Linked DNA regions of Homo sapiens: region 1 is linked to region 2. The links come from fine-mapping of genetic effects on plasma protein levels. Region 2 holds a variant in brackets. A gene starts in the other region. All regions are shown on their forward strands. Region 1 holds the start of PRR4 (proline rich 4). Region 2 overlaps GACAT3 (gastric cancer associated transcript 3).

The links. PIP is the chance, under the fine-mapping model, that this variant and not a neighbour inherited with it causes the effect. Protein levels are from antibody-based Olink assays in UK Biobank. Linkage for the fine-mapping came from a reference panel and not from the study's own genotypes, which makes the PIPs less certain.
Region 1: PRR4 starts here. The variant in region 2 is fine-mapped to the plasma level of the PRR4 protein (UK Biobank, PIP 0.93).

Annotation. Positions count from the first base shown.
Region 1 is chr12:10,845,483-10,853,819 of GRCh38, forward strand. PRR4 (proline rich 4) reads right to left here and starts at 3,993. Exons shown (of 4, transcript NM_007244.3): 1 at 3,892-3,993; 2 at 2,890-2,925; 3 at 1,563-1,885; 4 at 367-468. The coding sequence starts at 3,955. The coding sequence ends at 1,581. It overlaps PRH1-PRR4 (PRH1-PRR4 readthrough), which reads right to left. Exons shown (of 10, transcript NR_037918.2): 8 at 2,890-2,925; 9 at 1,563-1,885; 10 at 367-468.
Region 2 is chr2:16,063,995-16,072,331 of GRCh38, forward strand. The region is part of intron 1 of GACAT3 (gastric cancer associated transcript 3); the gene reads left to right. Among named protein-coding and RNA genes, the nearest start is that of GACAT3, 18 kb to the left of the region's middle. The variant C/T (reference allele first, on the strand shown) is at 3,453.

The DNA of each region.
Region 1 (8,337 bases), not on the chromosome of region 2:
GAAGAGATCTAGAACTACATTTATGCCCCTAGAAACCAGGATTAATAGTTTTGGAAATTTTAAGAATTCCCCAGCACTTGCAACTCCCTCTCATTTGTTATATATTCCTTGTTTTCCTAGAGTTACAAGAATATCAATGAAAGATGTAAAAATAATTTTAAGAATTTGCATTTGTGCTATGCAATCTAGGACAGAAGGGGAACAATGGAACTCTTTCTCCTTGGCAGCTGGCTTTATTAAGATAAAGGAGGAGGGAAGCCTGCTGGAAGCATCAATGAGCAAGAGTCCCAGATATTCTTAGATTGTATTAATGGCCCTCAAATTCTAGACTCAGAAACACCCACAAAGAGAAGCAACAATCAGAAATTGCATGCTATTAATATTTTATTGGTATACTGAAGAAAGAGTTATGACCACATTATTTCAATGTCATGGCTTTCTGAAGGAAGTTATCTTCTTATTTATTTTCTGAAACAAAAAAAAAAACCAAGGAAATTTATACACAACATACAACATGGCAAAACTTATCTAATTCCTTGATGATATTACTGAAGTAAATTATTGCTTTCAAGATTAAGAAAACAGATTTTTTTATGGTGTTTATGTTTTGGTTACTGTTCAAAACATTCAAGGTTATATTTATGAAAATGACTGCAACTTGAACCTGTAGTAGTGAAAAACTAATACAAGCCTACATATCAATTAACAGTGGTTGACTGAGGAAATCATGGTACAGTCACACAAGAGAATAGTATACAATTGTAACAACAAAAGAAAAATGTACAAATAAATCACCAAGAAGATCTATAGGTCTCCGTGAAATGATAAAGTTGTCTAAGACATGTATTATTTGAAATAAGCAAATACAGATCTGCATATAAAATAATATGTCATTTGTGGGAAAAATAATGACGTATGCTTATATACATATAAATATTTCCAGGAGGATGTTCAAAAAATTAAGGGTGGTGACTTTTGGTGAAGGGTGTGGGTAAGTAGGATAAGGCGTCACTTTAAGATTTAGCTTCATACCATTCTGTTCAGTTAGATTTTTTTTTCCTTGAGCATGTACTAATTTCAAAATAAGTATTTTAAAAATTAAATAAGATATAAGAGCATCAAGTTCAAGTATCATTTAGCAGGGACACTGGACCTGAGAGGCTAGTGTGAGGCAGGACTGAGCAAAGAGTCCTCTGGCGGAAACCTGAGAGAAACCTGAGATGGAGAGTCCTTGGGTTTGAGAAGGCAGACTCAAAGACAGGAGGCAGAGCACCAAAGGGAGAGCACACCCCACTTCCTCATTACCAACTCATTTTAATGAGACAAGTCATCTTAAGAAAAAAGTTGGGGAGGTCAGTATTTCAAAAGATAAGAATTCTTTGAACCACTTGTTAAAAATACAAGGACTTGCAACCTTATCCAAGAATATCTGAATACAAATCTTTAGAAATGGGGTCCAGGATTATGTAATTTCAACATATTTCCAATTGATTTGTGAACACGATAAAGTTTGGGAATGGTAGCAGTTTGGGCATTTAATGGAGAATGAACTGGAATCATACCTGCCACTGAATTCTAGATTACCAGAGTGGTTGCTCCTGGGGATGTCTTGCTGGTCTGTCCCTCTGGAAGAATGATGATGCTTCCTGCAGGCTGACAGAAGGAAATCGGGGTAGAGAGAGTTGACGGTGTCCTCGTCGGGGTGGTCGTTGCTGATTTTGAAAAGGAGGTGGGGGAGGATGGCGGTGATGGCCTCCTGGTTTTGGTGGTCTCTGCTGAGGACCATCATCTTGGTTACCACTATCACCAGGGGGTCTAGGTAGGAGTCCTTCAGGAGGAGGTCTCTGGGGTCCCTGATCTGGTCTCTGACTTGAGTCCTCTACATCTGTGTGAGTAATTAATGGACAAGAATGCATGAGCTCAGTGAAGAAAAACTCTCCTCTCTTTATACTTCTCTCACCTTACCACACAGCCCTGTTCTCCCCAAACCTGCTGCTTGACTGTCAACTTCTTTTGTGCCCACTGTTTTTTTTTTCTTTTTATGCAGCTCTCAACTTAATCCATGTAAGAGTGATATGGAAAGTCTCATTTATTTGCTCCTGTGACAAGTATGTTTCCTTAAATGAAAAGAGGGGTTCTTGCATATCTTAGAGTTGCCAGAGGATGTCTCCAAGGACAGAAAAAAAAAAAAAAGCAAAAGCATTATAGCTTTCAGTTATGTTACTGGTTATTTTTTATTTTTATTTTTTGGTTGCTGTAATGACTTACAAACTGTGACTCCATCTCTGGGCACCTAAGCCCTATGTGGAAACTAGAGCTGATTTCCCAGGCTCCTGGAACCAAGTAGAGAAATACTAAGAGACAGAAGAGAAAGACAATGTGAAAGCCTGCACATGATCACTAAACAGCTGTGGCAACTATTTATCATCTGTAGTGACACAGCTGAGTGGGTCAACACAGAGAAAAGACATTCATGCAGTGATTTTTTTGTTTTGTTTTGTGTTACTCCCTGAAGCCACATAACCGTGCGGGGGAACACTGGGGGAAGAAAGAAGCAGTTAAGGATGGAGGAGTCAGAATGAGAACACTTCTCATTTGTTCATCATCTCTCAGCAGTCATTCCAGCCTGGGAAAAAAGCCTGCCCACTCCTATTGTCCTCAAAGCCAGGCATCTCTGTATTCAAGTTGGTGGCCTGGCTCATGGTCCCCAGAATCAAAGATGGGTAAGAATTGCCTATATATTTAGGGGCACTAATATTAATCAATGCCTGACCCCTCTTACCACCTCCTCCCAAAAAAATGATGAGAAGAAGACACTGAAGGAAACTAAAAAGAAATTCTAGTGGAAAAAGAAAGAAAAGAATTGGATTGAGGATCATTGGGATTTACCTGGTATGGTGAAAGTAAAGTCTTCATAGTTCACATCTAGGAAAAGAAGCACAGGATGAAGTGAACATTACCTCATAAATCTTTCAGGGCTCATAGTGGTCTATAGGGAAAGGGGTCTTCTGGCCACACCCTGTGCATCCCCTAAGTTACCTCATCAACCATGTTCTGTGAAGCTGCTGGAAGGGGAGGAAGATGTTAGGGGAGGCAGGATTGTTACTATCGCTGAGCATCAACCACGAATTCAATAGAAGAGTCCCTTTTTGTCATCCTTAGGATCCCTCAAACCCTAATGCTAATTTAGGCACACTTCTCTGGGTATTTTCATGTCATATTTTAGATCTTTACCTTCTTCCTTCTTTAAATATTTTGATCATATTCACAAGCTTGCCCAAGAGGAGCAACCAGGAGTAAATATTTGGATATAATCTTACACATGCTGCCTGCAACATATTGAAATTTTAAATGTGATTGGAAGAAAAATGGGAATTTGGGGACCTGATATTTCTATACCACTATGTAGAAAGACACAAATGTATTATCCAGTCCTCTATGTCTGACAGTACTCTGATGTTTGTTTATCTCTTTCATTGATTCTGCATCCCCTGTACAGCAAGGACACCATCATCGCTGTCCACTGAGATTACTGTAGCATCTTCATAGCTGGACTTCCCTGGATCAGTCTTGCATTCTCCACTGCATCCTTCACAGCACAGCCAGGTCTTTCTAAAAATACAAATCTTACTTTGTCATTCCTCTAATTGAAATTCTCTATTGGGTTCCAAGTGTATATCAAATAAAGTATAAGGCCTTGGCATGGAATGAGGGCACAACAGATGTCATCCTTGGAATGAGAGCTCCAAAGCCCTACCCTTCTTCTCAACCTCCTTCCTCCCCTCCTGCTCTTCCGCTGCAGTGGTGTAGGGTGAACCCCTGAGGCCCTAGAAGAGTCATGGCCCCTCATCCCACTCCCCATCTCCTTTTTTAAAAAAATAATTTTTTTACCATTATCTGTGCTCTGAGCTGAGCTCAGAGCCAGAAGGACCACTGAGAGCAGGACCAGCAGCATCTTGAAGGAGGCTCTGGAGTTGCTCCCAACTCTGCGTTGAGAGAAACATGGCAGCTCCCTTTATAAACATGAGCAGAACAATGGCACCTTTGAGCTCCATACTGGGTGGACCTCACCACCTGAAAGATTAGGTTTTGCTTTCCTCTCATAAAGTTGAATGCGTCTCTTATTACTTTTTGGGATTTTAGCCCAGCAGGATGTGGTGGTAGGATGTGGTTAGGTACAAACTGTGACTTGAGCATAGTTTCTGAAGAAACAGTATCCAAGCAATCAGCACAAATACTACAATTGAAGTTTGGTCATCATTTGATTTTCAATTGGGTTAGACAGTTAGTCTTTCCCCTTCATTGGTTGTCTGTGTGCACACGTGCTTACGTTTGTATATGTTTGTCAGCAGTGATCTTATAGCCAGAAGTGAAAATGATTAATATCTCTAGCTATTAGTGTAGCATAAATTCCATTTTTATAGCATATATACCTATATGGATGATATGTAGCTTAATTTCATAATAATATAGAGATCATTTCTGTTTAATGTTGAGTTGTGTGAGGACAACACACACTTGGGCACACGTGGATGACAGAAGTTTTACCCTCAGGCTACTCTGGCCCAAAGAGATTAAGATTCTCCTAATCTAGCATTAACCAGAGATACTTTATTGTTGTAGAACACAGGTATTAAAACATTCTATCTTTATTAATACCCTGGAGGTTAGTAAGGCAAAATTGGCCACAGAAAGCACCATTAGATTTCTGCATCAGAACAGTGTGAATACACAGTTCCTTGAACAAGCCATGCTATTTTATGTCCCTAAGACTTCTTCCATGATCTTTCTCTTTTCTAGAATGTTCTATATGATTCAGTTTAGGTCTTACTTCTTGTACCAAATATTTTAATCACACTGGTTATTGAGTGGACACAATAATACAATCTAATTAGATAGTATGATAGCCTGTTGAAAGCCTCAAGTATTACATTGATTTTCTATTTTTTAATTAGTTTCCATTCTATTTGCTTCTCAGATTGCCTTTACCAAAGATTATTTTCTCTGCAATATTCTTATACTCATTCTTCTTCACTCTTGTGCTGAACCTTACTTGTTGATATGTTATATTGTGAATCAATCCTCCCTATGTCTATGTTTTATATCTTACTGCTTTCTTCATGCGTTCTGGGAGAAATCTTTATTTGATTTTCTAAACAAGGTTCTGTACTTCTCTTTGCTTGCTTTCTTCTTTTTTGTTTTTAAAATTTGGCACCAAGGTTTTGTGTTTCTGAAAAGTTTGGTAGGGTCCTGAGTTGGTAGCTTAATCTTCACCTGCTGATTTTTCTGTCCTATCTAGTAGTTTTCTGCTTATATTTTCATGGAACCCCTAGATCAATCAGTATCACCAGCTGCCACTTTTCATTACAGGCATTGTATAGGTCTCGTATTATTGTTACATTTTTGTACAGGGCTGGTGATAATTTGAGGATAGCTTGGTTGGAAGTATGACAGGGTCGGGGGAATGTGACTGGAAATCTTAAAGACAGGCCTCTTGACCATTGTGGATAAGTGGATCCTGTGCTGTGCAGATGAAGGTCTGGTCTGGCAATTCTGAAGGGTTGGAGGTAATATTACAGGAAGATTTTCTAATCAATGGTGTTTGTTATGGATAACTTTACTTTGGCAAAGTGACCAAAAAATAAATATTTTCTCTGGCATAATTATGGACATATTTTGAAGGTGAAATATATTATGAGTTAGCAATTCTTCTCTATGTGGGAAGCAGAAGAGTTCTAGCTGTGCTTTAGGGTTTTATGGGTGAGAGAGAGTAGTTGTTTGGGCCTACAGACCCAGCTGTGTTACTAGGATTGCTGCCTCTGATTTCACCAGACACTGTTTAACATGGGAAGTGGAGATAAGTAGTTCTGCCTAGGTGGCTTATGGTAGACCATCAGGTAGGAAAGGAAGGTCAGCGAGAAGGAGCAGAGGGGCGTGCCATGCAGACATGATTCACTGTGTGGGTGGCTGAGGAAACTGCAGTCCTGGTGGAAGGCAGGCTTCTCCTTGGCTGGTGAGTGCAGGAAGACAACAGGTGATGCCTGCAAATATCACTCAGCTCAGACCCTTACCCTGACATTCTCCAGTGTAAGCAATGAGAGAAAGAGATTAATGTATCAGGAAATAATAAACATCAGCTATGATCTCACCACACACAACCACAACAGAGGTGACGGAGGAGCTGAAACAGACACTGTCAGTGAGTGAGGGTGGGGTCAAATCGAGAAGCAGGACTGCAGCAGGAGCTTAGGCACTTGTAGGTGAGTGGACACTCTCAGCAATCCACTTGCCTTTTACAACAGATGAAAACTTAACATACCCCTAATATAATTCTTGATTTCTACTTCCTAAAACCTGCTCTCCTTCATACTAATTTGTTATGGCTACCCTAAAAAAATGCCCCACAAGTGGCTTAAACAACAGAAATTTACTTTCTCATAGTTCTGGAGCTTGAAGTACAAGATTAAGGTGTCAACAGGTTTGGTGTCTTCTGAGGCCCTGTCTCCTTCACTTCTAGATGGCCGGTTCTTGCTGTATCTTCACATGGGGTTTTATCTGTAGACGTGCATCCCTGGTACCCCTCTGTGGTCTGTGCTAATGTTCTTTTCTTATGAGGACAGGTGTCAGATGGGATTAGCACCAACCCTATCAGCTTCATTTTAACCTAATCACCTCTTTAAAGGCCATGCTGCAAATAGAGTCACATTCAGTGGTATCGGGGGTAAGGGATTCAACATGAGAGTTTGGAGGGAACACAATTTAGCTGATAACACCTCACAATCTTTTCTCAGTTCATGACATTTGTTTCACTCAACCATTCAAAAACATAAGTGTCACTCTTGATTGTTTAGTCTCCTCCGTGTACTGCCCTTAGCAAATCCAATTGGTTCTACCTTCAAAAGATATCCCATATATGATCAGTTTCATAATCTCTATCAGAAGGTCCTGAGTCAAGCCATGATTCTCCCTCCTGGAGGACTTTCAACAGTCTCCAGCTGATCTTGGTGACATTCCTGCCCCTCACCACATCCCAAGCAGTTCTCCTTACAACAGCCAGAGTGATCTTTTAAAAATAGAATTTAGAACATCAGCAAGATGGCTGACTAGAGTTCCCTGGCACTCATTTCCCCACAAAAAGAAATCAAGAAAACAAACAATTTTATGTCAGCCAGTGTGATTTAAAAAGTATGCTGGAGACCACCAGGGGAACAGAAACACCTCTGTGAAGTACAGAAACTCAATATAGCATCCTGCCTCTGACATACTCTCTCTTCAGTCAAGGTTGGCTCAGGGTCATCAGTAACTCCATTCTACAGGAAAAAGTAAGCTGTAGTTCCCCAGTGGTCCACATTGCCATAAAAAATGTCAACAATCTTTGCCCCACTGTTCTCACTGGCACAAAAACCAGTCTGGAGAGCAGTTGGGATTTCCAAACTGCATTGCCTTACATAGTAAGAGACCACCTTGAGCACCCTCTGCCCCTGCAATGTAAGGTGCTATGGCTCAGTGCCATCTCCAAACTGAACCTACATAGAGAGTGTGTCTTGCTTTGAGCATCAGTAGCACCTGGCTCTCTATCACTTGAGGCCCCACCATCATTCCAACACATTCATACAGGTATCTGCAGCACCATGACCCTAGCTTCCCAGAGCCTAGCCAGATAAACTAATCAAGACCCCGGCATCCGAACCCATGTGGTGCACCACCAATCCAGGGAAGAAGTGAACAGCAGGGAAGCCACCCATCTGCCTACTAGCCACGACACCCACATGCACCCACACCTCACAACCAGCTAGTCTGCTGAGCCTGTGCATGCTGGTGCCCAGCCTGAAAACTGGTCCTGTGGTGGGCCCACCCCCAGGACTACAGCCTGCTTGGGCCACAACAACTCTGAGTTTGTGCATGGTCTAATAATTGGTCCTGCAGTGACCCTGCCTCCTCAGATGGGACTCTGCAGAGATGGATGGCCCTGCTACACCTGTGAGCACTGACAGCAACCCGCCCACCCAGCAGGAAGACAGCAGTGCATGTAAGTGCACACACCTTGAGAAAAGGCTCTTCCCACTGCTGCTGGTGGCACAGTTGCTGCTGTCACCACCGGGGGCTGCAGCAGTGAAATGCCAGTTGGACCCAGCAAAGTGGCAGGATCCTCAGCATTCTAGCATATGCAGTGTTCTGCACCTCAGGCACTGGAAAGGCTGTGAACCAGACATAGGGAGCCAAAGCACATGCTTTCCAGAACCAGAGAGCTGCCTCCCTGTGGCTGCTGACACAGACAGCAATGTCACCCCCGCAACACAGCAGCAGAGATGCTGCACACTTGCATGCAACCTGGGG
Region 2 (8,337 bases):
CTTTACTCCAGTTCCCAACAAGTTCCTCATCTCCGTCTGAGACCACCTCAGCCTGGACGTCATTGTTCATATCACTATCAGCATTTTGGTCAAAGCCATTCAAGTCTCTAGGAAGTTCTAAACTTTCCTGCATCTTCCTGTCTTCTGAGCCCTCCAAGTCTCTAGAGAGTTCCAGACTTTCCCACATTTTCCTGTCTTCTGAGCCCTCCAAATTGTTCCAACTTCAGCCCGTTATCCACATTTTTAGGTATCTTTACAGCAGTGCCCCATTCTGAGTACCAATTTACTGTATTAGTCTGTTTTCATTCTGCTAATAAAGGCATACCCTAGACTGGGTAATTTATAAAGAAAAGAGGTTTAATTGACTTACAGTTCTGCAGGGCTGGGGAGGCCTCAAGAAATGTACAATTATGGCAGAAGGGGAAGCAAACATGTTCTTCTTCACATGTCAGCAGGAAGGAGAAGAATGAGTGCCCAGTGAAGGAGGAAGCCCCTTATTAAACCATCAGATCTCATGAGAACTAACACACTATCACGAGAACAGGATGGGATAAACTGCACCCATGATTCAATTATCTCCACCTTGTCCCTCCCACAACACATGGGGATTATGGGACCTACAATTCAAGATGAGATTCAGTGGGGACACAGCCAAACCATATCGCCATGAACACTGAATTAGTGAATGCTGAACCATTGCCTCCAGGAGGAACACAGAGTCCTGAGAGCCTCTGGTTATAATGTTTTGTTAGTTGATTAATTCATGACTTTATTTTATGCAGGCTTCTATCCAAAGACAGAATCTTGTTGATTCACTAAAATGAAACTCATGGCCAATAGCCCTTGAAGTCATGTTGAAATGAAGCTCATCTAACACATATTCTCTCTGTAAGGCACATCCCAGCCTCCTTGCACTCAGAAACACTAGACAACACTTCAGCACTATGCTTAGGAGCCATTTAAAACAGACAGATTTCCAAAAGAAAGCACAAAAATGCAAAAAACGTGGGCACTAAATAGTCTGTGAAAGGGATGCTCATTTACAGTATGTGAGCTGAAACAAGGAGGCAGAACTTGTCCTGTTCAAACTCTGCTGGGAACATATGTGTGGAACTACTCAAAATTTCCGCCACTTTGTGCATGTCTGTGGACGACCAAGAAGTGCCACAAGTATTGATTTTGGAGTTACAAATACATTTTAGCAAGTAGGTGAATTCACAAGTATGGAATCCACAGATAGTGAGGGTGTACATGTGGATAAAGCTTGGAAACGTTGTAGAAGAAAATTAAAACGTTGGTCACAGGATTACTATTGATGCTTCTCTGTTTTAAAATTTTCATTAATGTCAAATTTTTTCCTTTGTTTAACAATAAATAACACTTTAGGGAAAACAAACAAAGCCTCCATCTGGCTCTTACACCCTCCTTCTCTGCCACCTTGTTCTCATGACATGGGCTTAGAAATGGAGGCGATGAAGCTTCAGGGTTAGGGGTTCCCAGCCTGGGCTCCTCCATGCCAAGGCTTCTGGAATGATCATTGACAGTTAAACATTTTGCCCCAAGGTAGCTAAAATCATGCCTTAGGCTGGGCGCAGTGGCTCACACCTATAATCCTAGCACTTTGGGAGGCTGAGACAGGCAGATTGCCTGAGCTCAGGAGTTTGAGACCAGCCTGGGCAACATGTTGAAACCCTGTCTCTACTAAAATACAAAAAATTAGCTGGATGTGGTGGTGTGCACCTGTAGTCCCAGCTACTCAGAAGGCTGAGGCAGGAGAATTGCTTGAACTTAAGAGGCAGAAGTTGCAGTCAGCCAAGATTGTGCCACTGCACTCCAGCCTGGGAAACAGAGAGAGACTTCATCTAAAAAAAAAAAAAAAAAAGCCTTTACTCAGCCTCACCGGGGCACAAAGCACTGACCAGTTTTTCTCTGGTTGTAATCATGTCCTCACCATGTGGCAGCTCCAGTGACCTCAACTCCATCAGAAGCTTTCATGCAATTTCCTGTGTTTTGATGACAGAAAATTTGGAAAACAAGTTAGTGTAGTTTGTTTAATAGAGTCTCCCCAAAACTGGGCTCTTTGGAGAAAAGATTTTTTTTTTAAAGGAGTGCTTGTGATGGAAATATTAAGAGCTGTTGCTCTAAATTATGTGAAAGGCACCCCTTTGGGTTCCTTTTCAAAGGTATTTGGCAGGAAAGCAGCTCAGCCATTGACGGGACCTAGATGCCCTATTGGATCATTCTATGGGGCTATTTGAAGAAGATATAGAAACTTCTTCATCAATACTTGCCGAAGCTAGGAGTATTGTCCTAATTTCTAACTATGGGGACAGGAAATTCCAGGCCACAAAGGTTGCTCACATTTTTACCTGATTTGCCTCCAGATTTGAAGTTATGTGAATGGCTTGTTTGTCTAACTCAGCTCTGCTCAAATCAATCTTTCACGGGTCCCCCCAGTAAAGATCACCTTGGGTCAAAGGTTATAGGTCATCATGGTTCTTAAATACCTACCCACTTTGTAGGAGTTCCAAAGTGGACAATTACTCAGAAATTAGGAATAAAAGCATATATTTCAAAAGACTAATTGGGAAAAATGGGTATGGCATGTGCAGTAATGTTTCAAATGTTGTCTTTATGGCTATCCCAATTAATTTCCAGTGTTTCTCCAACCTGACTTTTAAAAAGATAGAATACAATAGAAAGCAACCTGCTATTGATGTGCAGAGTTGCCTGTGTCACATCTGCTGTACAATGACTTGACCATTAGGATATTCATCCTTTTTATGTGCCTGGGTGCGCTCATGCCAGCACATTCTTAAATGTATGTGAGTCCAGACACATACATGCAAAGTTGTGATCAAAAGATTTCCCTAAAGTAATTAATTCAGGGCTACTGCTGAGAAACAAGGCAAAACTTGGAGGGGCTTTCCAAAAATATCATAGTTTTGCCGTTCAGTAGTGCTGACTTCTTGTGGTGCAAATCTATTAATTTTGATGTAATAAAAAAAGTGTTCATAGAAACAAGCAAGAAATAAATAGGGACATTAAGATTATATGGAAAGGTGGAAACTGGAAGGTGAGCTAAGAATTGTCCAGATGACAGGCAAAGGCAGTGGAGGCAACGTGGATGACGCAGGTTGGTTAAATTCATGTGTATTTTAAAAGGGTGACTGTCCATTATGCACACAACTCACAGGCTCTGCTTCCTGGAGAGCCAGGCCGTTGCTTTTTTGATGAAAGAAAATCATTTCAACATGCGGAAGGAGAGGGCTTTTTGACTATAGCTTCTTCGAAGTGTGACCTCCAAATGGTCACATATCAAGGTGCCTCGTATTTACCTTCATGCCGGGCTTTCAAATCAACAGTTGGAGACTTTCAACATTTCTATTGTGCGGTTTTAGCGCACGGATTAAAAAGAAATCCATCTGTTAATATTTGTTTTTCTTGTCCTT[C/T]GTTAACCAAAGATTCTTAGGAACTTTCCAATTTGAAGGAACAACTTTTATTCATCATCTTGGTTAGAAGCAGCTTCTGCAGCTTGGGCCTTCCTCTTAGAGGGGAGCACATCTTAAATAAGGAAGGACTTGGTGAGTGATACTAGCCCTTCTCTAGCAGAGCGAGATGCCAAAAGGTACAGGCCTGGTTCTAAGGTGCTGAATGAACTAACTGCAAATGGTTGTTGATTCTGTTTGCTTGTTGGAGCGCCTACTGTGCGCTGGACAGGGAGCTGGACACCTGGTAAATCTTCTATAGTCTTTATAACAATGTTGCAAAGTGAGCATTATCAATATCCCTGCTTAAATGAGACAGCGTGGAGAGGTTAAGGAATTTACCTAGAGCCACTCAGCTAAGTAGTTGAGCTGGGATTCAAGCCACATGTGTCTGTCTTTGTGGCCTCTATTGGGTCACACTTCCCAGAAGCCCTGAAATCACCAGGGAAAAGATGGCGTCTCCGAGAGCCCACCGAGGGGGATGGGGGACTTAGGCTCATCTCGCCAGGGTGGGGGAGGTAGAGGGAGCAGCCAGATGCTCCAGCCATCTCAGGTCAAATGAAGCCTGATCCTTTCTCAGCTTGATTTGACCTAGAACTGGGAAACAGATGGGTCCAAGCAGCCCCAGGGTCTGAGGACGGCTGGGCAGACACATGCGTCCTGGCTGCAATCGCTCTCGTTCTGAGGGCCCAGGGCTGGGGGCTGCCCTGGGACCCAAGCTCCAGTGTGGGTCTTTTGACTTATAAAACCTTAGCTAGGAATTCCTCTGTCAGGCTAGAGGGCTCGTCCTTTCTGAGGGCAGTAGACCCAGGGAGGCCCAGAGCAAATCCAGGGAGATAAGGCAGATGTCAACAGATGCATTGTAAACAACGTGGTGTGGATACTGGAAGAGATAGCGGAGGAGATAAACAGGAATCTAGGAAAGGTGCCCCATGGACTTGAGGCTAACTCAACCCCAAAGAGCTGTCCTTTTGCAATGCTGGGCCATGAAGCTGTTTAGAAACACCCTCTAACTGTATGAGCATGGGACCTGGCTCACAGATTTTTACTACATGTGTGTTAAGTGAATGAACTAATGAATAGAGACCTAGGCATTATTCATTCACTACTCATTTACTGATGTGAGGACAAACAGTTCCAGTTTGTCTAGGACTAAGGGGTGTCCCGGGATGTGGGACTTTCAGTGCTAAGACAAGGAATGTCCTGGGCAAACCAGGACTAGTTGGTCTCTGTAGTTACTGAGGATCTATGATGGACTGGACCCTGGGCCCCCACTGGGCATATGGAGGTAAGTCAGACTCAGTTCTCACTCTCAAGAAGTGCACAGCATGGTTGCAACAGGAAGATAGAAGGAAGAGTGGCAAGTGTCATGATAGGGCCATGAACAAGAGTGAGGCTATGGAGCCTGACACTTTGGCGATGGCTTTTTTTTTTTTTTTTGAGATGGAGTCTCGCTCTGTCCCCCAGGCTGGAGTGCAGTGGCTCGATCTCAGCTCACTGCAAGCTCCGCCTCCCGGGTTCACGCCATTCTCCTGCCTCAGCCTCCTGAGTAGCTGAGACTACAGGCGCTCCCCACCACGCCCGGCTAATTTTTTATATTTAGCGATGGCTTTTAAGAGGAGGAGTAAACACTGGCTTGAGTCTCATGGGAGAGGAACTCACCAGATCCCTACAAGAAGCTTGGAAAGGGCCTTGAGGTTAAGAGACAGCTGGGACTAAGGCCTAGAGGCTCACACAACAATGGTTTGGTTCAAGAAACAGTAGGCAGCATATGTGCGTGTTGGAGGGGTGGGATTGGGAGCATGTGGAGGTTGTAGGGTTGGAGAGGTATTTGAGGGTCCAGTTACAAGTGGTAAGCTATGCTAAGAAAGATTAAATTGATAATATAGGCAATAGGGAGCTGTTGAAGGTTTTCTGAGCATGGAGAGATAGAATCAGATATTACAAAACATTTCATTCATTCAACACATGTTTACTAAGCATCTATTATGTGCCATACATTGTGCTGGAGGAATGAATGAATAAATGCATGCATGCATGGCTATCACTTAATTTTCCAATCACAGTGAGGATCCTTGAAATCCAGGGACCAGCTGATGTGACTTGTGGGCCTATGATCTCTGTCAGAAAATCATTCTGCAATGAGCAAATCTAAGACAGCCAGCATTGGCTCCCGCCACCGCCCCCTTATCTGTTTTTCTTTTTGCAAAAGACCTTGAGGCCTGTAGTCGGTTCCACTACAAAACGGTTACACAATTTCCCTGGGAGAAGGCGAGTTTCCACCTTTGGGGATGAATGAGCCCTTTCTTTTCTGGAGAGCCGGCCAATGAGGCACAGGCTGGGTACTGCAGGAGGCGCGGCTGAGGGAACAGCAGGCCTCGGTCTAATTTGGGGGTAACTATTTGTTTTTTCATTAAACAAAGTCTGCATGGTAGGAATTGTGGTTGCAGGAGCCTCGGGAGGCCGATAAAGCAGGCAGGGCGAGTCTGCCGGGAGCAGCGGGCGAGGGAGCTGCTCTCTGATTCTGCTGCTGCCCAAAGCTTCCACTTTTCTGGGGCTGCAGGTCCTATAAATGGTGCCTTTGAGGAGGCTGCCCTGGTGACAGCAGGACCCTCCCTGCAGCACCCACTCGGCCACTGACTTCTGAAAGCGGGATTGTCCCTCCCCAAGCCCTGCCCTCCTGCGACATTCCTCATGCTGACCATTGTCTGCAGAAAGAGGCCATTGTCTGGGGCTGACATATCTGCTGACCAGGCACATGAAACAAGCAGAGCTTTGGGGAGGAAGAAATCCACCCAAACCAACAAAAAACCTGAGCCTAGCCTGAGGGCAGGGCTTAGACCCAGCTTGCTGAATTTCCTGATTCACTGGTGTTCTTCCCGAGACGAAGTGCCCACCATTGTGGGAGGATCCGAGTTTTATCTCTGGGCTGGAATGACACCGTCTCTGCCTTTGTGTCAACAGCACTGAGAGGCCTTGTTTAGGATGATGTGGCCAGTGCTGAGAAGGGCTTGTTTGAAGAGAAAAAAGAAAAAAACAGAACAATGTTTATCCAGCAGGCAGCTCCTGCCAAGGCGGCCTCCTCGCTGTCCTCTCCGTAGGATGCTGCTCGCCAGGCCTTCTTGGCTGTTCCTCGGCCTTGGGTGCAGGCCGTGGGTGGGGGGACAGCCAGCTGGTAGACACCGGTATTCGATGTCAGCTCTTACAACAGGGAGGTGGGTAAACAGGCTGCTGTCCCCACCTCTCCCAGGCACCCCCTGTGGCCTTGACTGCCCAGCCCTCCCCCTAACATCTTCCCCACCCACAACTAAGTTAACTCACACCAGGGGCAGCAGAGCCTTCAGACCTGTGGCCGCTACATCCATTCTGGGCACTTGGTGCCCCCACATGTACCCTTCCCTTCGGATTTGGAATATCACCGCTGCATGCAGGCACATTGCTGAGGCCAGCTGAATTGCCTTTGGGCATTAAGCCTCAGAGAGCCTCGCTACTCAAATGGTGGTCCCAGGACCAGCAGCAGCGGTGTTACCAGGGGCTAGTTAGAAATGAAGATTCTCAGGCCCATCTTGCTGTGTCAGAATCTGCATTTTAACAAGATTGCCTGCATCTATTTGCACATTAAGTTTGAGAAGCACTGGTCTACATCAGTGGTTCTCAAACAAGGCAGCCTATTGGAATCACCTGGGGAGCTTTTAAGAGTCTCAAAGACCAGGCAGCCTCTCCGGCCAATTATATGAGGATCTCTGGGGTGGGGGCGGTGGGGAGTGACACTGGAACATCAGTGTTTTCTCACACTTTCCAAATGACTTCAATGTGTCTCCAGGTTTGAGGCAGAGGAGCTAGGATGGGGCCCTCTTTCCCCAGTCCTTGGACTGGGTTTCCGTCAGTCACGATATTCTCACTTAGTACAACTCAGCAACTTTTCCTGAGAATTTTCTATGTGCCAGGAACCACAACAATTGCTGAGGTTTTATCAATGATGTTGGTACGTGTTCACTTCTGCAATGTCTTTCTGGCCCAAAGAACTCCTAGTCATCCTTCAAAGCCCAGTTTAGAAACCTCCTTCTCTGTGATGTGTTTTTTGACCTCTTGAAATGGGGAAAATGCTTCTTCCTTTTAACTCACATTGTCCTCTGCATTTTTCTATTATTGAATTTGTCATGCTGAGTCATAAACATCTATTTACCAATCACTGGACTGGGAGCCTCAAGGACAGGGACAGTATATTATTTATCTGTCGCCACGCTGGAGTGTGGTGGCGCGATCTTGGTTCACTGCAACCTCCGCCTCCTGGCTTCAAGTGATTCTCCTGCCTCAGCCGCCCGAGTAGCTGGGACTACAGGTGCGCACCACCACGCCCAGCTAATTTTTGTATTGTTAGTAGAGACGGGTTTCACCATATTGTCCAGGATGGTCTCGATCTCTTGACCTTTCGATCCACCCGCCTCAGCCTCCCAAAGTGCTGGGATGACAGGCATGAGCCTGGGCTATATCTTATTTATCTTTGCATCCCGGGGTCTAGGGCAGGGCCTGGGCATAAAGCAGGTGCTCAGTAAATGCTGTTGACTGATAACATGAATGCCTGAAGGAATACAAGAATGGGTGAAGATACATTCCCTACCCTTAAAAAACTTAAATTCTAGAAGGAGAGACCATCATGTGCAAAATTAATGTGACATTAACGTCTGATGGGTGTTTGACAGAGGTTTACCCAACTTCTGTGGGAGTGCAGGGCTGGGAGAGGGCCATCGACAGTGAGATCCGGAGTGGTCCACGCTCTGCTTATTATCGCTTTTCCAGTGTATACACCAGGGATGTCACTCGAGTGGTCCTCTTTGGCTCCTTTCCT